Linked DNA regions of Homo sapiens. The protein of the gene in region 1 purifies or fractionates together with the protein of each later gene. This does not show direct contact. Each region holds a gene or a part of one and is shown on either strand. Other genes may lie near its edges.

Region 1 (11,989 bases):
GCACTAAACTGCTAGCTGCTCCCCAGAATAGCCCATCTGTGTGTGTGTGGTTTTTTTTCTTTTTTTTTTTTTGAGACAGAGTTTAGCTCTTGTTGCCCAGGCTGGAATGCAATGGCACGATCTCGGCTCATGGCAACCTCCGCCTCCCAGGTTCAAGTGATTCTCCTGCCTCAGCCTCCCGAGCAGCTGGGATTACAGGCATGCATGCGCCACCACACCTGGCTAATTTTGTATTTTTAGTAGAGACAGGGTTTCTCCATGTTGGTCAGGCTGGTCTCGAACTCCCGACCTCAGGTGATCCGCCCGCCTTGGTCTCCCAAAGTGCTGGGATTACAGGCATGAGCCACTGTGCCCAGCCTGTTTTTGGTCTTTGTTTGTTTGTGAGACAGTGTTTTACTATGTTGAACTCGTGGGCATAAGCAATCCTCCTGCCTTGGCCTCCCAAGTAGCTGGGACTACAGGTGTAGGCCACTGCACCCAGCCACAATCTGGCTCATCTGAAAGCTTACCTGTAATCCCTGCTGCTCAAACTTCACCTTCTCTTCCTTTAGAACTGAGAAATTATTCAAACATTACCTCCCACCCCAAGTTCAGCTGGTTCTTGCTGCTTCCATGACCTCTTGTGCCTTTATCTCACTGTGCTGTAATTTTTTTTTTTTTTTTTTTGAGACAGAGTCTCACTCTGTTACCCAGGCTGGAGTGCAGTGGCACAACCTTGGCTCACTGCAACCTCCACCTCCCGAGTTCAAGTGATTTTCCTGCCTCAGCCTCCCGAGTACCTGGGATTACAGGCGCCCACCACCACTCCCAGCTAATTTTTTTTTATAGAGACGGGGTTTCACCGTGTTGGCCAGGCTGGTCTCGAACTCCTGACCCTCAAGTGATCAGCCGCCACCACCCCCTCCACCGCCCGCCCGCCCGCCCTTTGCCTCCCAAAGTGCTGGGATTACGGGCATGAGCCACCGTGCCTGGCTTTTGTGCTGTAATTTTGTATGTGCCTGTCTCTTCCACAAAACTGCATGGTCCTTGAAGATGAGAACAGGATCTTCTTCATCTGGTATCCACAGCCTTAGCACAATGCTGGCACACTGAATGCACTTAATGATTGCTACATAACAACTCACATACTTTTTTTTTGAGACAGAGTTTCGCTCTTGTTGCCCAGGCTGGAGTGCAATGGCTCGATCTCGGCTCAACACAACCTCTGCCTCCCAGGCTCAAGTGATTCTCCTGCCTCAGCCTCTCAAGTAAGCTGGGATTACAGGCATGAGCCACCATGCCCAGCTAATTTTGTATTTTTAGTAGAAACGGGGTTTCTCCATGTTGGTCAGGCTGGTCTCGAACTCCTGACCTCAGGTGATCTGGCCACCTCGGCCTCCCAAAGTGCTAGGATTAGAGGCGTGAGCCACTGCGCCTGGCCAACAACTCACATACTTTTAAATATTTCTTCTAAGGGAAAAAAAAAACCATTTTCATTTTTTTCATTCAAAAGAATTTAACCATATGATGAACATGTCACCATTTCAGTAAGGCAAGTAAATGATTCAACTTCATCAACACTACTGAGGCTTGGGTTTTCTTTGCTCCGTTAAACAGATGCTGAGGCTCTGCTAAGGCTGCTACATAATGTCTGACTCTCCAAACAGGCATGATTTTGCCTAACTGCTACATATACCTACCTGGCTGAGCAGACCTGCTCAGGACCAACACCAGCCCTCATCATAAGCACTGGGTGACAGCCTAGCCCACGCTCAGACTGGAGCCCAAGGCATCTGCTTTGAGATCAAGTGCCCCACCCAGCTGCAGCCTGCTGTAAACCAACCCAGTACCTTGCAATCTCCTGGTGGTAATCATAGTGTTCATCCTCCTCCAGCCACTCCACAGACCCCGTGGTCGGATTGGCCCGACTGCAGAAGATCTTCATGGTGCCCACTAGCTCCCCAGTTTTAGCACAGAAAAGCAGCCTTGCCAGTTGAGTTCTTGTGGACAAGTCTGACTGTCAGAAATCTATTAACATCAGAAGGAAACAGGAGGTATATAAACAAACGAACAGAAAAAAAATCTATTAACAGCACAATGCCCCAAAATGTGGAGGGGGGAAGGGGAGACAAAAGCGGGGAAAAAAATCAAGAAACTGACAAAAATGTCAAAGCCACTGATAGTATTTGTTAATCGATATTGTAAATGTTTCCAGCAGGAGTTACTTGGTTTTATATTCAGCATATAACATTAAAAAACTACAACAGATTCATACAGATGTCTGGAAACTTCAGCAGGCTTCGGTGCTTCCAAAAGGTTCAAATGAGCCTCACAAGTTCATCTAGGTGCAGCCCTCAAGGCTAGGAGAAGAGATGGGGTACTGTTAAAGAAGTGCCACCAATACTGCCTTCGTATGCTGAACCCTTAGCTTAAGGAAAAATATGAAGATAGAGCAAGTCAAACCAGGAAAACTTTCATCTAAACAATAAATTACAGTCACACATAAACCTAAAAATGGATAATCCCAGGAATATAATGATGAGCAAAAACAGCAAATCACACAACACATGCAATACGATTCCATTTCTATGAAATTTATAGCTATGCAAAATGGAGTGATACGTTCTTCAGGGATCACACTAAAAAGCATAGCAAGGAATCAGGATAGTTAACTCCTAAAAGAGAAGGGAAAGAGATGGGATCAAGGAGGGGTACGCAGTGGACTTCAAAAGTATTGTTCTTTTTCTTAAATTGGGTGGTGGGAACATAAATGTTCACGATATTAGCATTCTTTTTCTTTTTTTTTTTTTTTAAAAGATGGGGTCTCGTTATGTTGCCCAGGCTGGACTCAAACTCCTGGGCTCAAGCATTCTTCCTGCCTCAGCCTCTCCAGTAGTTGGGACTACAAGTGAGTGCCCCACACCCAGCTAATACTAGCATTCCTTATGCTTCATTATTTTTTATAGTGATTACTTCTTATCTATTCAAATTTTAATTTTAAAAGCAATTTTTAAAAACCCTCCATCATCTAAAAAAATTTTGCTTCAAACAAGTAAAATGTCACCAGATTCACGTCTTGTATGGCCTGTCTCCCCAAAGAGATCTATTTCTGGGAGGGAGAGAAACACCACCGCTCAAAGTCTAAAGGCACTCCTCAGCAGGTGTGGGCTCTCCCAATACCCATCCCTCTTACCATGCAGAAAGCAATAGGTGTTCTACACTGCCCTTCCTTTCTTGTTAAACATTGGTGCATCTTCAGGAAAACTTAGAAAGAATGCCTACTCCACATATCCCTAAACATTCCTATGGCATTTTATTGGCCAGAGTTTTTTTTCTTTTGAAGTTATCTAGAGTAAGTAAACATGGAATTCTTACACAAATAGATGAGAAACAGGCTGGGCACGGTGGCTCACACCTGTAATCCCAGCACTTTGGGAGGCCAAGGCAGGCGGATCACCTGAGGTCAGGAGTTCAAGACCAGCCTTGCCAACATGGCGAAACCCTCGTCTCTACTAAAAATACAAAAATTAGCCAGACATGGTGGCGCACGTCTGTATTCCCAGCTACTCAGGAGGCTGAGGCAGGAGAATCACTTGAATCCAGGAGGCGGAGGTTGCAGTGAGCTGAGACCGCACCACTGCACTCCAGCCTGGGCAACAGAGTAAGACTCCGTCACCAAAACAAACAAACAAAAAGCAAATAGATTAGAAACAATCTTCCCTGAACAAACTCAGGCCGGCAGTCAGGTTCAAAGTAGACAATTTGTCCAGGTAAAACTCTACTACTAAAATCTCAGCATACCTATCCCCTAGTCTAATGATTTTCAAACTTTCTGATAACCCCAGTAAGAAATATACTTTAAAATGAGACTCAATACACATACCTGCATGTACGCATACAACTAAATGTTCCACAAAACAATACTGACTTCCTACGAACAAGGCCCTCTGATATGCTCTATTTCATTTTTATTGTTTTTAAGAGATGGGATCTCCCTGCTGTCCAGGTTGGATCACAGTGGCTATTCACAGGCATGATCATTACACTCTACAGCCTTAAACTCCTGGACTCAAGCGATCCTCCTACGTCAGCCTCCCAAGTAGCTAGACTACCGGCATGCACCACGGCACCCAGCTGCACTTTTACTTGCTGGTCAGGACCCATCAATGGGTTGCAACCAGCAGTTTAACAACATTGCTATAATCCACTTTATCTCATGTACTAACATTTATTTTACAGACAGAATATCTAGAACTGTCAGAATCTGTAATGTGCATTAGAAAACTGTGTCCAACAAATGTTGGAGTAGAGAAAGAAATGGCCATATCTGACTGAATGTTCAAGGAAGGCTTAAAAGGTGGATTCAGCTGAGGCAGGAGGAGAAGGAGGGGGTTGTGGACGGAGAAGGCATTTCATCCAATTAGAAAGGCTTAGACAATCATGCACATTATATCAATCAGTTTAGTGAAGTAAAACTGGACCAGGTGTCAAACATATCAATAGGATCCATATGGTAGAGTCCTGAAATACTAATCCTGTGGTCCATGTGGAATCAATTCTGAAGTCACTTCAAGGTTAAGAGTCATCGTTTTGTAGTTCATAAGCGTGATGACTGGGTGTTCATGTGCCTGTGTCAGACGTGCCTCCCTCAAACCTTTACTACATTGGCACGTTACCCATTTGAACTGGAGGAAAAAAAAAACTTATAGTGAAGAACTTTAATCCATAGGATTCCTTTCTTGTCTGTGATGTTGCTGAGTCTAAAACCAGGACCACAGTGTCTTTTCAAAACCTGGAACAGCCCAGGCACGGTGACTCACGCCTATAATCCCAGCACTTTGGGAGACCAAAGCAGGTGGATCACCTGAGGTCAGGAGTTCGAGACCAGCCTGGCCAACATGGCGAAACCCCGTCTCTACTAAAAATACAAAAAATTAGCCAGCATGGTGGCAGGTGCCTGTAATCCCTGCTACTTGGGAGGCTGAGGCAGGAGAATTGCTTGAACCTGGGAGGCAGAGGTTGCAGTGAGCCAAGATCGCGCCACTGCACTCCAGCCTGGGCAACAGAGCAAGACTGTATCTCAAACAAACAAACAAACCTGGAACTATGTCTTGTGTTAACAATTTTATGAAGGCATGAACCTCTTCTGGTGGGCACTACACACCTTCTCTGGCTGAATGCCCTCATCCATTATTATTTGTTCTCTCCCAGAAGCAGTCTACACTACAGATTCAGGAGATATTCTCTGAACCCCTCCTCATTCTCCAAGAGTTGTAAACTTGCATGGCCATTTACAAGGAGGAAATAGAAACCACCATGCCAAGCCCTAATTGTATTAGCCGTCAGACTGCAGAGCAGATGGTCCACTACATTCATTCAAAATGTATTTGCTAGGCGGTGGTGGCTCACACCTGTGATCCCAGCACTGTGAGGGGCCGAGACGCAAGGATATCGAGTCTGGGAGTTCCAGACCAGCCTGCGCAACATAGTGAGACCCCGTTCTCTACAAAAAATTTTTAAAAAAATTAGCCGGGCGCGGTGGCCTGTGCCTGTAGTCCCAGTTACTCCCAGCTACTCGGGAGGCTGAGGTAGGGGAATCACTTGAGCCCGGGAGGCAGAGGTTGCAGTGAGCAGAGATGGCGCCACTGAACTCCAGCCTGGGTGACAGAGTGAGACCCTGTCTTAAAAAAAAAAATATATATATATATATATATATATAAATATACATATATTAAAATTAAAAATTACCCGAGTGTAGTGGCGCGTGCCTGTAGTCCCAGCTACTCGGTAGGCCGAGGTGAGGATCGCTTGAGCCCAGGAGGTCAAGGCTGCAGTGCGCCTCGATCACACCACTGCACTCAGCCTAGGCAGCAGAGTGAGACTCTGTCTCGAAAAAATAAAATAACAAAATTTATTAAATACCTTCTATGTGCCAGGCACTATATTAGGGACTGGAGCCACCACCACAAGCTAGAGAAGACCCTTGCCCTCCAAGAGCTTAGACTCTAATGAGAGAGTAATACAAATTACAGACTACATGAATGCAAGAAATACACAGAGCGTTGTAGAAAGAGAAAACCAAGGTTACAGAAGGACTCTGAGGAAACTAGCATTTGAGATCTACAAGACAGACCGGGATAAAAGTTGGGGAAGAGTTTTTACAGGTCAGGAATCCTTACCCCAACTTTCCCAAGAAAAGGCCCTAAGGTAGAAAGAACTAGGTTGCATAAGCAAAATGTGCCAAAAGCCTGAGCGACCGAAGCACTTTTGCAGAAGCCCCCCGCTCCTCATCTCCTATCACATCTTCTGCTCAATCAAGCTGGGCCTTGTCGACTTCGGAAAGGCGTTTGGATTTTGTTCTAAAAGCACTGGGAGCCACTCAAGAGTTTTAAGCAGAAGCGTATCTACACTAGGCTTACGCTTTTACAGGACCACTCTGGTTGGCGTGTAGTGAATACACGACTCTCCAATTACTCAGAACAGTGAGTGGCAAAGACAACAGGTCTGGCAATCAGAGAACTCGTGGCCCAGTTAGGGGTGCGATGGTTGGAGCTACTGCGGTCTCTGTGGCTGAGGGGAGGCGCCAGGCACGAGTACTGCGACAGAGCCCCGCGAGTGGCAGGCACCCGGCTGCACTGCAGAGCCGGGGCCAGCCTAGAACCCCGCTCTCCTGCAGGCCCGGGTGTCCCGAGCTGCCCCACGCGGAGGAGTCCAAGTAGGCCCACGCTAGGCTCCTCTGCCGAAACCCTGGTGCCAAGGACACCATGCTCGCTGCACACAGAACCCCAAAGCGACCCCACCTTCCCAGCATACCCAGCGCCTCACCCGCCGCGGGAAACCCTCCGCTCGCCTCCGCTGCTACCACTTTTACCGCGGCCAGCACGCGGGGCGGGACCTCGCAGCGTCGAGGAGCGTGCTGGGGGGCGGGTCCTAAAGCAGAACTGGAAAGCTATCCCATCACACCCCGCGAGCTCCCACAGTGCTCAGCGGCAGCCACTATGGAGGCCGCCAGGACCGCTGTACTCCGGGTGAAGCGGAAGCGCAGTGCGGAGCCGGCGGAGGCTCTTGTGCTCGCTTGTAAACGCCTCCGGAGCGACGCGGTCGAGTCAGCGGCACAGAAGACGTCGGAGGGTTTGGAGAGAGCGGCGGAGAATAATGTCTTCCACTTGGTGGCCACTGTGTGCTCCCAGGTATTGGGCGTGGTGCAGCTGGTGTGGAGGGCATCTTCGGGTGCAGCCGGTACGAAACCCGATCCCTGACCCGCTCGCGAACTCCTGCTTACGCTGGCCTCCGTCCCCTGTTGCCCCCTAGGAGGAACCAGTCCAGCCTCTCCTGCGGGAAGTTCTGCGCCCGTCACGGGACAGCCAGCAGCGTGTCCGCCGTAATCTCCGCGCCTCGGCTCGGGAGGTCCGGCAGGAGGGCCGCTACCGGGTGCTTTCCAGCCGCCGATCCTTGGGGACCACCTCGAGCGGCCAGGAGTCCGAGTACACGCCGGGGAACCCAGAAGCCGCCGGGAACTCGGGCTTTCAGTTGTTAGACCTTGTCCACGAGGAGGGAGAACCTGAAGCCGCCTCTGCAGGCTCCTGCAAAGTGAGTATGCCCCTGAAGGTGGTCGCTGGGCTTCTCAGGATGGTAATGCAAGAAGACTGGGCCCAGTCGCAGCACAGTTTCATCTTAAGGGGATGGATGATCCATCCGGCGTGACGGCCTCATTTTACAGATTTGGTTGTTCATCCAACATGTGTTTACTACGTGCCTACGATATGCCAGGTATTTTTTTAGATTCTGTGGATACAGCAGTGAGGACCTAACATGCAGGTAGACAGAAACAGTAAACAAGTCTATTCAGTGTCAGATGATGATAAGGGATGTAAGGAGGCGGGGAGACAAAGCAGGAAGAGTGGTGCCACTTCAGTGAGAGTGTCACTGAGGAAATGACATTTGAGTGAAGACTTGCAGAAGGTGAATGGCAGGGTATTCCACATATCGAGAGGACTTCTAGGCAGAGAACCTGAAAGTAAAGAGGCCCTTAAGCCGTTTCTTTGCTCCTTGCAAGGTGCCTGGAGCCCGGTGAGCTAGAGGAGAGCAGTAAGGAATTTGAGGGGAGGATGCCTGCTAGGTACTTGCAAGGACATTGCCTTTCACCCTGACTGAGATGGGGATCACTGGAGCAAAATAGAGATAGAGCAGGTAGGAAAATTGATCAAAGAGAGGTTAAAGGAATAGTCCTGGATAGCATATCAAGTTTGAGGTAGATTTAGGTCTAGAATGCAAGTTTTCTCACATTTAATCCAGTGCTTTTCTTTATATTACATTTGCTAACTTCATTTGCAATCACTTCCAAAAAAAGTCTACTACATGCAGCAAAACTACAGAAATGGAAAATTCTCCTTGAGGCTGGGCACAGTAGCTGACGCCTAATCCTAGCACGTAGGGAGGCCCAGGCGGGAGGATCACTTGAGCCTGGGGAGGTCAAGGCTACAGTGAGCCATGATTGTGCGGCAGTGGCATTTCAGCCTAGGTGACAGAGTGAGACCCTGTCTCAAAAAAAAATAAAATACTCCCTGTAATCCCAGCGCTTTGGGAGGCTGAGGCAGGAGGGTCGCTTGAGGCCAGCCTGGGCAACAAAGCAAGACCTTGTCACTACAAAAAGGAAGAGGAAATTAGCTGGGCATTGTGGCACGCGCTTGTAGTCCTAGCTACTGGGGAGGCTGGGGCAGGAGGATCACTTAAACTCAGGAATTAGAGATTGCAGTGAGCTGTGATCAAGTCACTGCCCTCTGGTTTGAGCAACAGAGCAAGATACTGTCTCTAAAAAAAAAACCAGAAAATTCTCAACATAAAGTGTGCCCTCTCTTTTTTTTTTTTTTTTTGAGTCAGAGTCTCACTCTGTTGCCCAGGCTAGAGTGCATTGGCATGATGCTGGCTCACTGCAACCTCCAACTCCCGGGTTCAAGCAATTCTCCTACCTCAGCCTCCCAAATAGCTGGGATTACAAGCGTGAGCCACCACACCCAGCTAATTTTTGTATTTTTAGTAGAGACGGGGTTTCGCTATGTTGGCCAGTCTGGTTTTGAACTCCTGGCCTCAGTGATCCGCCCGCCTCAACCTCCCAAAGTGCTGGGATTACAGGCATGAGCCGCTGCGCCTAGCCAATATGCCCTCTCTTGATAAACATTTTTATAGAACTCATTTTAATTATTTTTGCAACTTAAAACAATTATAATTCAAAATGAATCCACAAGCAACAAGCAAATGGTACTAGTGTAATTGTTTATTGTTGTTTTTGTTTTGTTTGAGATGGAGTCTCGCCCTTGTCGCCCAGGCTGTAGTGCAGTGGCGCGATCTCGGCTCACCGCAGCCTCTGCCTCCTGGATTCAAGCAGTTCTCATGCCTCAGCCTCGCGAGTAGCTGGGATTACAGGCATGAGCCACCACACCCGGCTAATTTTGTATTTTTAGTAGAGACGGGGTTTCGCCACCTTGGCCAGGCTGGTCTTGAACTCCTGACCTCAGGTGATCCACCCGCATCGGCCTCCCAAAGTGCTGGGATTACAGGCGTGAGCCACCACGTCCAGCTGGTGCTAGTGTAAGTGGATAGCAATTTGTGTATGATGTCCATAGCCACATCTTTCACCAAAACATTCCAGACTAATGCATGACTTACAAAATGTGTAAAGTAAACCAATGCTCCGTGGAATTGAATCAAGTAAATAGTTCACTAGGCCGGGCACAGTGGCTCATGCCTGTAATCCCAGCACTTTGGGAGGCTGAGGCGGGTGGATCACTTGAGGTCAGGAGTTCAAGACCAGCCTGGCCAATATGGCAAAACCCCATTTCTACTAAAAATACAAAAATTAGCCGGGCGTGGTGGCGGGCGCCTGTAATCCCATCTACTCGGGAGGTTGAGGCAGGAGAATCGCCTGAACGCGGGAGGCAGAGGTTGCAGTGAGCCAAGATTGCACCACTGCACTCCAGCCTGGGCGAGAAGAGCAAAACTCCATCTCAAAAAACAAGAGTAAATAGCTAATTTAATTTTATAAAGAAAACTAGGAGATAAACTGATGACCGATATGAACAGAGATTTTTCCAGTAAAGCAATACCGACTCTAAACATACCAAAAATGTTTGCACAGAGTAATTATAGGGGAAAAATGAATTTAAGCTTAAAGCATGCTTGAGGTTTTATGCATACTAGACTAGCAGGAAAAAAGTAGTTGATAGCAATGCTGGCAAGGCAATGATTAAAAGCGTACACAATTGTAGGAATAAAATTGATGCAAGCCTTTTGGAAAACAGGATGGCATGGGAGCCATGTTTTACATATGTAAATTTATTATTGTTTGGATCTAAAGCCATGCATAATCTAGGAAAATTTTAAAATTAAAAATTTCTAAGGAAATTTAAAAATGACAGCATTTCTATGTTATGTTACAATGAATTTCTCCTTAAATTGACACAATTTACATTTTAAGCAAATAAATTCCTATTAGATAAATTTAATAGGAAATTTAAAAATTAAAGGACTTCAGTTCCTTTTAACTAGTAGTCTCACCTCCAAGATTTATCCTAGGGAGATAATTCAGCAGAAGCAAACAGCTAAGCTAAGCTATGATATTAACAAATGCTACTGTTGATTGACTAAGTAATTATGTCAAATAGCGTGCTAGGTACTTGTTATATTTTCTTTTAATTTAACTCATTTAATCCTCACAAAAACCTTATGAGTGAGATACTTTTCAAATGCAGGAAATGGCACATTCATTGCAACACTATACATGGAGGTTAAAAATTATATCCAAGAGGTTGACACATACAACTGTCTGGACCCTTAGAACTGATAACCATGAAAACTGATTGTGGGCGAAAATATATATGTTTAACAGTACAAAATGCTGTGTGTAGTGAAACTGAAAATATGGGCTGGGCTCAGTAGTTCACACCTGTAATCCCAATACTTTGGGAGGCCAAGAAAGGAGCACTTGAGCCCGGGAGTTAAAGACTGCAGTGAGCCATGATCATACTGCTGCCCTCCAGCCTGGGCGACAGAGCAAGACCCTGATTCTGAGTGAATGAATGAATGAATGAATGAATGAATGAATACACATGGACATAGACTTCAAAATAATTTTCAGCAAGGGTACGGTGGGTTACTCCTATAATCCTAGCACTTTGGGAGGCTAAGGCAGGAGGATTGCTTGAGGCCTGAAGTTCAAGACCATCCTGAACAACATAGCAAGACTCCATCTCTACAGAAATAATAATAATTATTTTTCTTCTAGCTAGGAGGAGTGGTGCACACCTTTAGTCCCAGCTACTCAGGAGGTTGAAACAGAAAGATCATCTAAGGCTAGGAGTTCAAGGCCAGTTTGGGCAACATAATGAAAACCGCCTCTTTAAGCAATAATAGGCCGGGCGCGGTGGCTCATGCCTGTGATGCCAGCACTTTGGGAGGCCAAGGTGGGTGGATCATGAGGTCAGGAGTTTGAGACCAGCCTGACCAACATAGTGAAACCCGGTCTCTACTAAAAATACAAAAATTGGCCAGGCATGGTGGTGCGTACCTGTAATCCCAGCTACTCAGGAGGCTGAGGCAGGAGAATCACTTGAACCCGGGAGGCAGAGGTTGCAGTGAGCTGAGATCACGCCATTGCACTCAAGCCTGGGTGACAAGAGCGAAACTCCATCTCAAAAAAGAAAAAAAATAATTTATGCTCATTATGGGAAATTTGAAAAAATATAGCAAAGGAGGAAAATCTCCCATTTTACCATCAACCCAAAAGTAGGTAGAATAGAACTGGTTTATTTCCTTCTGAGTACAAAATTCTGTATCTGTCATTTTTCTGTATTGCTAGTCTTGTACCTTTTTTTGAGACAGCGTCTCGCTCTGTTGCCCAGGCTGGAGTGCAGTGGCATGATCACGGCTCGGTGCAGCCTCCACCTGGGCTCATGTGATCCTCCTGCCTCAGCCTCTCAAGTAGCTGGAGCCACAGGCCTGCGCTACCACACCC
Region 2 (11,813 bases), on another chromosome or scaffold:
AACGCCCTTTGATCAGACTCCACTGTTTATACCTATGATATTTACATTGTCACAAGAATTATGAACTCTATCCATCTAAAAACACCCAATAACACCAAATGACATAAATGTTAGGCCTTGACAACATATTGATGATAACCAGATGTGAGTTGGGTGGATCACCTGAAGTCAGGAGTTCGAGACCAGCCTGGCCAACATGGCGAAACCTCATCTCTACTAAAAATACAAAAAAATTAGGTTGGCGTGGTGGTGCACACCTGTAATCCCAGCTACTTGGGAGGCTGAGGCCAGAGAATCACTTGAACCCGGGAGGCAGAGGTTGCAGTGAGCCGAGATCGCGCCATTGTACTCCAGCCTGGGTTACAGACCAAGACTATGTCTCAAAAAAAAAAAAAAAAGAAGAAGAAGAAGATAACCAGATGAACAAAAAATAGGCCTCGTGTAAAAGGAGCCCATGACTCAGTGCGGGAGTCAGGCAGACAATATATTAGTTTCAGCAAGCACATCTCATGCAATATAATAGCGACAAGTTCAAAGTAAGCTAAGAGTAGGGAAAGGGGAGAGTGAAAGAGAGACAGAGATTGAGACAGAGAGAGGAGGGATGGCTTGACAGAGAGGGATGCCTTGAGGGCATGTTGTAGAATGAGCAAATATGTACCAGGGAGAGGGAAAATCAGGTTCCGGCAAGAAGGTATGAAACATGGGTATAAAGTTTCAATTATGCAGGATGAAGAAGTTCTAGAGATCTGCTGGATGGCATGATGCTTATGGTTAATACTGTACTGAACACTGAAAATCTGTTAAGAGGGCATATATGTTAAATTGTGTTTTTTTTTACCACAATTTTATTTTTATTATTTTTTTTTGAGACAAAGTCTCACTGTTTTTGCCCAGGCTGGAGTGTAGTGGTGCAATCTCGAATCACTGCAACCTCTGCTTCCCCAGTTCAAGAGATTCTCCTGCCTCAGCCTCCTGAGTAGCTGGGACTAGAGGCGCCCACCACCATGCCTGGCTAATTTTTGTATTTTTAGTAGACATGGGGGTTTCACCATGTTGGCCAGGCTGGTCTCTAACTCCTGACCTCAAGTGATCCTCCAGCCTCGGCCTCCCAAAGTGCTGAGATCACAGGCGTGAGCCACCATGGACCAGCTGTTTTTTACAACAATTTTTTTTTTTAAAAAGCATGAAACAGCATAACCTGTCCAGGAACCTGCAAAGAGACCACTGTTGCTGGAGTTGATGGGGGAAAACGGAGAGGAAAGAGAAGCTGGAGAACAGGATAAGAAGCCAGATCAGAATGGCCTTTGCGACCAATGTTTAGGCTTTTAATTTTCCACGCAATGAGGAGCCACAGAGAAGCAGGATCACAGCTGCATTATGGAGCAGCACCTCAGGTGGCAGTGTGGGAGAGAGATGGGGTAACTGGTAAGCACGGAGGCTGGTAAACTCCGATGCAGTCTAGGTGAGACCAAAAGGCCGGGGCTAGGGAAATGGTACTAGGGCAGGACTGCCTTCTAAAACACTTACTGCTACCTGCTTACTGCTATTTGGTTAGTTAACTTTCTGTTAACTTTCTCAAAATACAAGAGTCTGCTATCTGGAGTTACTTGGCTAGTTAACTTTCTGTTAACTTTCTCAAATTACAAGAGTCAAGACAATGACTCTGTCTTGCTCACAGCTATATTCCCAGTTCTAGAACAGAGTCTTCTATACAGCAGATGCTCAGCAATTACCTGCTAAATCAATGAACAAATCCCTTGAGGGCAGGAACCCTGGCTAACTCACATGTATATATATTCCTCAACACTTTCAGTAGAATGTTATATATGAAGAATGCTCAAAGACATGTGTTTTTTGTTTTGTTTTGTTTTGTTTTGGCACATGCCCTGGATTTTTCCAAATAATGACATCGAATTTTCTTGGTGAAAAGTTCAAAGACTGAATGTTTCCAACCATCAGCTTTGCACAACCCACCTGGGCATCTAGCAATCCAGCTGGGCACTTTCTGCTTTGTAAATCATTGCTGGCAACAAAGCCTGGCAATTATAGAGCTCAGCTGCTGGTTGTGCTAACAATGGTCTGGACAGCCAGCAACACCGTGGCCCTCCTGTGTCTGTGCGACGCATCAACGTGCATCAGGAGGGAAGCAGCCACTGCCAGAGGCAAGTTAGCAGGCTAATGCCTCCTCACACTGCCTCACAACCCATAACCAGTACCTTTGGGGAAAATTTTCCCCACAGAGGAAGGACAAAGGGGTTTAATTTCTCTGTTATATGAAGAACCAGTAAAAGGACAGTTTTATAGCTCTTCTGAGTGGAACAGACCAGGCTCAAATCATGCGCTTGACTGACTCATTGCCATGGTTTACACAGGTCCTTCAACTGCCAGCTTTAAGTCAGATGCCTGCTCACAGGGACTCATCCAACAGTAGGTTGGCTTTAGAAAAGCGTTCTGTACCTCTGAGAAACAGGACCTCGATGAAGTCTTCACTGATGTCAATCAAGAATCCTTTCTGGGGGATTCACACTGTGTTCACTACACAAGGGCATAAGCACAGGCAGGAAACCAAGACTCAGGCCTGGGTACAAATCCTGACCTCCACCTGCCAGCTGTATGACTTCAAGTAAGTGATTTAACCATTCTCAAGTGTTCCCATTTGTAAAATGGGAATAATACCCCCATCTTACAAGGCTCCAAAGGGATTCAATGAGTGAACAGGGTCTCACTCTGTTGCCCAGGCTGGAGTGCAGTGGCACGATCATAATCATTGCTCACTATAGCCTCAAACTCCTGGGCTAAGTGATCCTCCTGTCTCAGCCTCCCAAGTGGCTAGGACTACAGGTGCACATGACCATACCTGGCCAATTTTTTAATTTTTGGAGAGACGGGGTCTCACTATATTGCCCAAGCTGGTCTTTAATTCCTGGGCTCAAGTGATCCTCCTGCCTTCACCTCCCAAAGTGTTGGGATTACAGTCATGAACCACCACGCCCAGCCCCAATATTTAACGAATGCTCGTCCCTTCTGTTACCCCGAGTGGGATTGGAAGGTTGGTGAAAGGCTGCCTTATATGGAGCAGGCCTCATGGGGGTATTACACACAGGGAGAAGAAAGAAGCTCATGGGAGGGAAAGTATGGAAACTGACAGTGGCAGCTTCTGCCTCTTCTATTCTTGAGAAAGTTACACAATGTGAGTGACAGAGGCTGTCCCAAGTACATAAAGGACTAATCTGTTTGCAAAGGGAGGAAATAGCATAGGATGAAGATTGTAAGTTGTTTGAAGCTTCTTTCCTAATTACCACTCATAATGAAAATTTAATTGCCAAGTTAAAAGCAAATTTCACTTTTTCTGTCATAGAATCTCTGCAGAAACTGGCACATTTTGTTTGAACAGGAAATCAAAGTTATTTTAATGCTTAAATGAGATCTAAGGAGCTGCAGATGTTTCACTGGGAATAACAAACTTCAAAATTCTGCTTTACTGGGTTGTAGCAATTCATGGCTACAGGGAGAAAGAAACGCTGTTTTAAGCTGAGTAAACCAAAGCAGTGGGAGGAATTCAAATCCAAGTACCCCAGTGTTAGGCACTCTGGGGACGAGGTGTAGGGAGAGGGTGGTACAGAGAGAAAATTTCTGGCATAGAGGCACTTACAATTGAGTAAGAGAGAGAAAAGCAGGAAATATCCCAAGACTAGGAAACTGAAATTTAAAAATTTTGGGGTCATGGAAGAATAGCGAGAAACAAAACACATACTGTTGCCTCAATTCTGACCCACATGTGCATCAGCTCAGTCAGAAAGACTGCTCACCTGTAAGGTGCTGGTGAGGAAGTTGTCTTGGGAGACAATGTCTACGAAGAAGTCAGCGGGGATCTCACCAAGCTGGTGGTACAGGATGGAGATGAGGTTGATGTAGAGGGTGTGGTGCTTCATCATGGCTGCTTCTGACCGGCACAGGAGGTTCAGGAGCCGCTTCCAATGCTCAAATGCCTCGTACACATTCCCCAGCAGGAAGCACACAAAAGCAAACTGGAGTTCACCTGAAAGGTGCAGAGAGGAGAAGTGATTCTGAGGGAGAGGAGGACCAGCTGACACTCTCCATCACTATTCACAAGGCCATGAATTCCACTGGACCTCAGCAACAGATGAGCTTTTATCCTTGTCACTCCTGCAGAGCCTGGCAGGAGATTTTGCACCTAACAGGTACTCAATAGATGTCTGCTGAACCGCTATGAATTCAAGCCATGGGAAACCAACCTGTGGCTTTGGATTTCTATAAAATCAGACTGCTAGAGAAGAGGTATTCCCAGTATTTGCCTGGCATTTTAAGTTTACAAAATGTGTTCATGGATATTATGCCAAGTGGATTTCAAACCTGGCTGCCCATCAGAATCACTGAGAGTCTGTTAAAAGTAAAGCTACCCAAGCTTCACCCTCAGAGGTTCTGGTGGAGGAGAGATGATGGGGCCTTCGTATCTGTAGCTCTAACAAGCTCCCCAGGTGATTCTAATGTGGATGGTCTGCTCCAGGGTCAGGAAATACTGCACTATACCATGTAACCCTCAGCCCAACTCCACAAGGCGATCAGGAAGATGGTATTTGCCTCATTTCATAGATAAGGTCAAGGGCTTGCCCAAGGCCACACATCTAATGCTTCACAATGTGGGCAACGGAAAGATAAAACAGATTCTCCATTGGGTGGGAACAGTTCTGGAACCTCCCACAAAAGAAAAATTCATGAGTACTTATTCCAGGGTCAGCCTGCCAGGCAGATTATTTTTGTTTGCTTAACCACAGGGCTCTGTGATTTAATCTCTATGAGCAGCTTGGTGGCTAAGAGCATGGGCTCTGGAGCCAAACTGCCTAGCTTCAAATCTTAGCTCTGCCACTTAGCAGCTGTGTGACCTTGGGCAAGTTACTCAATCTATTAAGGCCTCAATTTCCTTATTTGAGGGTTGTAGCAAAGATTACATGAATGGATATAGTACATGTATAGCATTTAGAATAAGACCTGGCACAAAGTAGCACTCAAAAAATATTATGTTCCCAATTTCTATCAGATGCCCATCTCAAACAGAGACCTGATGATCCAGACACCACTGTCCCTGGGCAAGTAACTGGGTCTCTGGTTACCACAGAATACTGCTCCTCATCACAGGCATTCTCTCTACTTCAAAGGTGGCTGGAAATTTAATGAGGTATACATACATGTGGGCCATAAAAAGAAGAGATGTACTCAACACCAAATACCTCTTTAAATGCATGGCGTTTGATCTGTGCCACCTCCAGAGACCTGGAAAAACTAGCTCCCTGTTCCTAAGCATACGGAACTAAGTTTGATTTGTGTGAATAGCTACCTGGTTTAGAAATTTTGGATTTCTGACCAATATTTTCAAATATAGTCAAATTTTCTTTGTATAATATAGGTTAATGATTTGCTTCTTCAGCTGGCTTTACTTGGTTTGTGAAACTAAATATTAGCCTATTATTTGCGTTTAGGACATTTATTAAATTTGTGCATTTCTGACTTTATCTAAAATTAAATTATATTTTTCAAAGAGGTGTGATGTAGATTCAAAATTATCCCTGGACAGGTGCGGTGGCAGGGATAGTCCTAGCCCTTTGAGAGGTCAGTGGAGGAGGATTGCTTGAGTTCAGGAGTTTGAGACAAGCTTGGGCAACACAGGGAGACCCTATCTCAACCAAAAATAATTAGCTGGGCGTGGTGGCACACACCTGAAGTCCCACCTACTTGGGAGGCTGAGGTGGGAGGCTCAGTTGAGCCCAGGAGGTTGAGGCTGCAGTGAGTTGTGATCATGCCACTGTACTCCAGCCCATGTCACAGAGTGAGACCTTGTCTCAAAAAAAAAAAAAAAAAAAAACCAACAAAGTTATTCCTGTAACAGACCTTTTCGCAAGATATATTTTGAAGAATTGAAATGTTTAAGAGGTAGAAAGACAGGATTTCTATTCATTTTTAAGCCAGACTTTTAAAAGTTACTTATTATACGAAAATACTAATGCATTAAGATGTACCTGTTAAAGGCTGGGTGCGGTGGCTCACGCCTGTAATTCCAGCACTTTGGGAGGCTGAGGCAGGTGGATCATGAGGTCAGGAGATCGAGACCATCCTGGCCAACATGGTGAAACCCTGTCTCTACTAAAAATACAAAACAAAATTAGCCGGGCGTGGTGGCGGGCGCCTGTAGTCCCAGCTACTCAGGAGGCTGAGGCAGGAGAATGGCGTGAACCCGGGAGGCGGAGCTTGCAGTGAGCCGAACTCACACCACTGCACTCCAGCCTGGGCGACAGAGCAAGACTCCGTCTCAACAACAACAACAACAACAACAACAACAACAACAACAACAACAAAAGATGTACCTGTTAAAATATAGGTTATATCATTAGCTGAGCCAATGATATAAAAAGTCCTGTCTAGGCACAGTAATCCCAGCACTTTGGGAAGCCGAGGCAGAAGGATCACTTGGGCCCGAGAGGTTGAGGTGGCAGTAAGACATGATTGTGTGACTGACTGTACTCCACCCTGGGCGACACAGCGAAACCCTGTCTCAAAAAAAAAAAAAAAAAAAAAAGAAGTCCTACATTCAAATTTCTCACTGAACTTCCAACAAGAAAATATGCAAATTACCTGGAAAATTTATAAATATATATAAAAATAGCTGTTCAAAATGTGACACATATTTGCTGTCACTAGTATTTAAGAAATAAAGAAATATAAACAAGGTGCCATTTTTCAGCTATCCAATTGGAAGAGGCCTTTGTTAAACTGTCATGCCCAATGCTGTCAAAGGTGATGGGCAACAGGTTCCTACCAGCCAGCAAGGATGCAAAAACCTTCTCCTGGCAACATGCACAGTCTGACCCAGCAATTCTATCCCTAAATGTATGTGTAAGTACACACGAGAATGTTCACTAGATGATATATGTATATATATTTTTGAGACGGCTCTTGTTGCCCAGGCTGGAGTGCAATGGCGAGGTCTTGGTTCACTGCGACCTCTGCCTCCTGGGTTCAAGTGATTCTCCTGCCTCAGCCTCCAGAGTAGCTGGGACTACAGGTGCACACCACCCAGCTAATTTTGTATTTTTAGTACAGATGGGGTTTCACCATGTTGGCCAGGCTGGTCTCGAACTCCTAACCTCAGGTGATCCCCACCGGCCTCAGCCTCCCAAAGTGCTGGGATTACAGGTGTGAGTCACCACACCCGGCCACTTGATGATACAATAGAGAAAACAGGGAGCATCTCAATGGTCCATAACAGAGAACTGGTCCAATAACTATGGAACATGAAACAGCCACTAAAAAAGTGACTGTTAGTGACATGAAAAAACATTTATATTAAGGCAGATTACAAAGTAATAATATACTTCAATCCTGTTTTTATAAAAACTCATATATATACAGACACATATACTGAATTTTTAAGACTGAGAGGAAGTACATAGAAATAAACAGAGAAGACATTGAAATGAAATACATAGAAATACACAGAAAAAAAGGAACGTAAATATACCAAACTGTTTAAATGGTTATTTCTAAGTAGTGAGATTTGAAGTAAATTTTGTTTTTCTTTTATGATTATTATCTATCATTTTTGTAATAAAAGGGAAGGTAACAATAAAAACTGTAATGATTAAAAAAAAAATCACTGTCCTGTTCTAAGCCAGTTGAGAGACCAACATCTTGAGGGTCAGGAGCAAACTGAGCAGGCAGGTGAGAGGCTACAACGAACACAGGTCTGGCCCAGAAACCAAGAGTCCTGGGTTCTCGTCTCAGTTCAGCCACTCAGTGGGCCAAATCTTTTCCTTCTGTAGGACTGGGCTCTATCAGTGGTTCCCAAACAGAAGATTATCTGCACCAGGTTCACCTAGGATGTTTGTTTATTAGACAGATAGAAACTGCGGAAGCCCCACTCCAGATCTCTCAAATCGAAATCTCCAGGGCTAAGGGTAAAGACACACCTGTATCTTCAGCCTCCTAGCCAGGTTTAGTTGCTGCTGGACTAACACAAGATGTACTCCCTATTCCAAAACACCTCTGCTAATATCCTCCCCTTGGCCCACTCCCAAAGAGCCTTGTTCCTTCTCACCAAGCACATCCTGGGGGCTGCTGGGGAACTGCTTGTTGAGCACAGTCTCCAGGGCATAGCTCAGGTCCATGCTGTGCTTGGTTATCTCAGCTGGCGTGGCACCCTCTGGGAACATCTGCGTGGGCAGCTCTGAGAAGCGGATCTCTGTCCCGGCTCTGGGCTTCATCTCTGGTAGCCGGGCCAGGCCCTCTTGGTAGCTTTTGCACTCAATGCCACAGCGGGGTAGATTCTGCCCCACGCGGTCCTTGGTGTGCTTCATGGAGAGCACAGGTAGCACATCGGAAAAGGCACAGATCTGTCGATTCTCGGGCTGTAGCTTCTCCACTGTGGCTTCGCTGATGAAGTTGGTGAGTGAGATCCACTTCTTCAGGGTGGCATATGGGTAAGGCCCCAGGAACTGGTCCAGCTCCTGGAGGTTGGCCCTCATGGCCTCCACCTCAGACTCTGGGGCTGGGGACAGGTCTACCTCTTCCCTGAGTGTGCTCCAGCGCAGCACTGTCAGCCCCCGCTGGTGCAGGCTAAGGAAGAAACCCATACGAGGGCCTACTTCCTTCGGATTAGCCTTGTCCACAGAGCTGTAGTGGAGGAAGTGGATGCCTGGAGGGATCATCTTCACGCCCCGGAACTTGGGCCCGACCTCCCAGGAGTTATAGTCAATCCCAAACTCTGTTCCCTTGGGCATGTTCAGGATGACCACAGTGGCCCCTTCAAAGAAGAGGCGCTTGGCTAGCTCAGGATCCATCTGCACGGCAGCCATGGGGCCAGTGGTGGGTGACCAAAAGAACCCTTTTTCTTTGATGAACAGCTGAGAAAGAAAGAAACCAGAGTTAATCAGAACGTGGGGGAAAGATGCTTCATTTGCTAAGCATTCTGTATGTGCCAGATATTGAGTTAGACCCCTGACATAATTATTTCCCTTAATCCTCATGACAACCCTGCATTGAGTTTACAGATGAGAAAAACGAGGATTAAAGGAAAGGATTTTTGTGTTTTGGCTTAACATGCAAGGACACTCACTTCACAGCTATAAGATACCAGTGAAAGAAAAGTGACATGCTCATGGTCATACCAGGACCCAAATTAGAATCTGGATACCCTGCCTGCAGGCCAGTGTTCTGTCCACCGTCCATTCTTAATATCTTCTCAGATCTCTTTCTCACAACAGAGGGTGAGGGTGGAAAATGCCTGGACAGGTCACTCTAAACTATATGCCTACATCATTTAAAACTACAATTCTGCCAAAAAACTATCCCAAAAGATTTGGAAAGATTAAATCAAGTACATATCCAGTTTCCCATAAGCCTCAGGGAAGGCCCAGAAATGGACAGACGGTAGCAAGTGGAGGCTCAGCATCTAAAGTTTGTTCAGGGTCTAGAGAGCTTTCCTACCACAAATCTCCCCTCTTCTTTCACTCATAAAAAACCTAAACTCCAGGGAGTGAAACAACTTCCCAAAGAGCCCACAATCAGTGGTGGCTCTGGACCATTCATCCAGAATGAATTCAGGTGGTAAAGCTAGCCTAGGAAGAGAAAGCTGGCCAGAAGAGAAAGAGCTTAGTACACTTATTTTACCTACTTCTGAATATCCCAGACATTGCCTCTGGGATATCGGCAAGAATGGTACCAACATGAACAAATGTAAACAAACCATTATGCAACCTTCTAGTCCTAAGATACCTACCTGACTAATTTAACAAATACTCACTGAGTGCCTGCATTGTGCCAGGATCTTTGCCAGGCCCCCAAAAAACATCACAGATTAAGACAGTCACTGCCCTCTAGGCAATTCCAATCTAGCCAAGACGTCAAAATTTCACACACAGAAAAACGAGCTGCCTGTTTAATTGTTTACTTTTTTTTTTTTTTTTTTTGAGACAGGGTCTCGCTCTGTCACCCCAGCTGGAGTGCAGTGGCGTGATCTCGGCTCACTACATCGTCCACCTCCCGGGTTCAAGCAATTCTTGTGCCTCAGCCTCCCAAGCAGCTGAGACTACCGGTGTGTGCCACCACACCTGGCTAAGTTTTGTATTTTTAGTACAGAGAGGGTCTCACCATGTGGCCTAGGCTAGTCTGGAACTCCTGACCTCAGTGATCTGCCCGCCTCGGCCTCCCAAAGTGCTGAGATAACAGGTGTGAGCCACCATGCCTGGCCCTGTTTACCCTTTTTACTTTAAATAAAGCAGTGCAGAAAGGAAGACCAATCCTTTTCCAAAAATAAGAGCACATTTTATCATTGTTACCTCAAAACCACCACAAATGACTCTTACCCTGAATCAGCACTTTGTGTTTCACCAAACTGCAAGTCACAATCCATTAGTGGATTAGGAAATCAATGTGAAGGTCTCAACCAGCATTATTTTTTAAACGAAAATAACAGAATTTTTGAAATATCACAATACATCATGAGTAGTAAAGCTAAGTACTGTTTTCTGGAGCTTTGTGTGTTTGTGTGTATACTTGGTTGTGCCATAAAATGTATTCGTTACTGTAGGTCACAGTCATAAAAGTTTGAAAGACTCTGCTCTAAATAATTCGTATCAACAGGCCGGGCGTGGTGGCTCACGCCTGTAATCACAGCACTTTGGGAGGCCGAGGCGGATGGATAATGAGGTCAGGAGTTTGAGACCAGCCTGGCCAATACTGTGAAACCCCATCTCTACTAAAAATACAAAAAAAATTAGCCGCGCATGGTGGTGTGCGCCAGTAGTCCCAGCTACTTGAGAAGCTGAGGCAGAAGAATTGCTTGAACCTGGGAGGCAGAGGTTGCAGTGAGCTGAGATCACACCACTGCACTCCAGCCTGGGGGTCTGAGCGAATTCCGTCTCAAAATAATAATAATAATAATAATAATAATAATAATAATAATAATAATAATACGTATCATCTTCCTATTTGTAATCCTGAATTCAGAAAGTATTTAATATTTGCTGAATGAACAGATATTCCATTTACAATAACAGCTCATCAATTAGCCATTTTCCCTTGTGACATCTGTGTGCTCCTCCTTGATAATGACGTTTCTTTCATGCTAATTCCACCAGTCTGTAATTCTATTCACTATATCTCCAGCAGCTGGCACAGGGCCTAGCACAGAGGAGATGCTAGGAAAACGTTTATTAAATATGCATAGAACTCTGCAGTCTACCAGCCCCTGTCACTGACAGCTCTGTGAGTTCCTCACAGTCCTGGAACACCTAAAGTCACATCCATCCACTTCTCTCCACCACCTCCCTAATCCAAGCTACCATCGTCCCTCACTCAGAGTGCTTGCTCCTCAACCCATTCTCCATTCAACAGCAGTAACCTTTTCAAAATGCCAATCTAATCACAACACCACCCATGTCAGCTTCTGAGTGGTTTCCCATATGGTTCTTGAAAAACCAGAATTCTTCCTATTACCTACAAAGCCTGCACGGTCTGACTCCTGGCAACCCCTTTAGCTTGTGTCACACAATGGTCCCCCACAAGCTCTCTGTTCCAGCCACAACGGCCTCTTTCAGAACCTGAAATTGGAGGCTGTCTCCATATAGAAAACTCTTCCCTCCCCACTTTGTCAAATCCTTTTTTCTGATCTCAGCTCAATATTCACCTCCTCAGTAAAGGTTCCTTGCCCTGGGGCTAGGTCAGGTCTCCTGTGATATAATCTGGGGTGCCTTGTACCTTTCCGTCTCAATGATCACAACTGCAGTTTTGGATGTTTGATT

What was found.
Region 2: the proteins of SLC7A6OS (region 1) and AAR2 purify together in Homo sapiens (affinity purification with mass spectrometry; 3 studies listed by BioGRID and IntAct, with this or other methods). This does not show direct contact.

Annotation. Positions count from the first base shown.
Region 1 is NC_000016.10:68,305,915-68,317,903, reverse strand, and holds the start of SLC7A6OS (probable RNA polymerase II nuclear localization protein SLC7A6OS), read left to right. Parts: upstream 1-6,957; 5' UTR 6,958-6,977; coding exon 6,978-7,169; intron 7,170-7,290; coding exon 7,291-7,569; intron 7,570-11,989. Other genes in the region: PRMT7 (protein arginine N-methyltransferase 7), read right to left, coding at 1,830-1,924. UniProt on the Homo sapiens protein: Directs RNA polymerase II nuclear import.
Region 2 is NC_000020.11:36,236,923-36,248,735, reverse strand, and holds part of AAR2 (protein AAR2 homolog), read right to left. Parts: exon of another isoform or gene 11,699-11,813; intron 8,916-11,698; 5' UTR 8,868-8,915; coding exon 8,111-8,867; intron 4,040-8,110; coding exon 3,810-4,039; intron 1-3,809. UniProt on the Homo sapiens protein: Component of the U5 snRNP complex that is required for spliceosome assembly and for pre-mRNA splicing.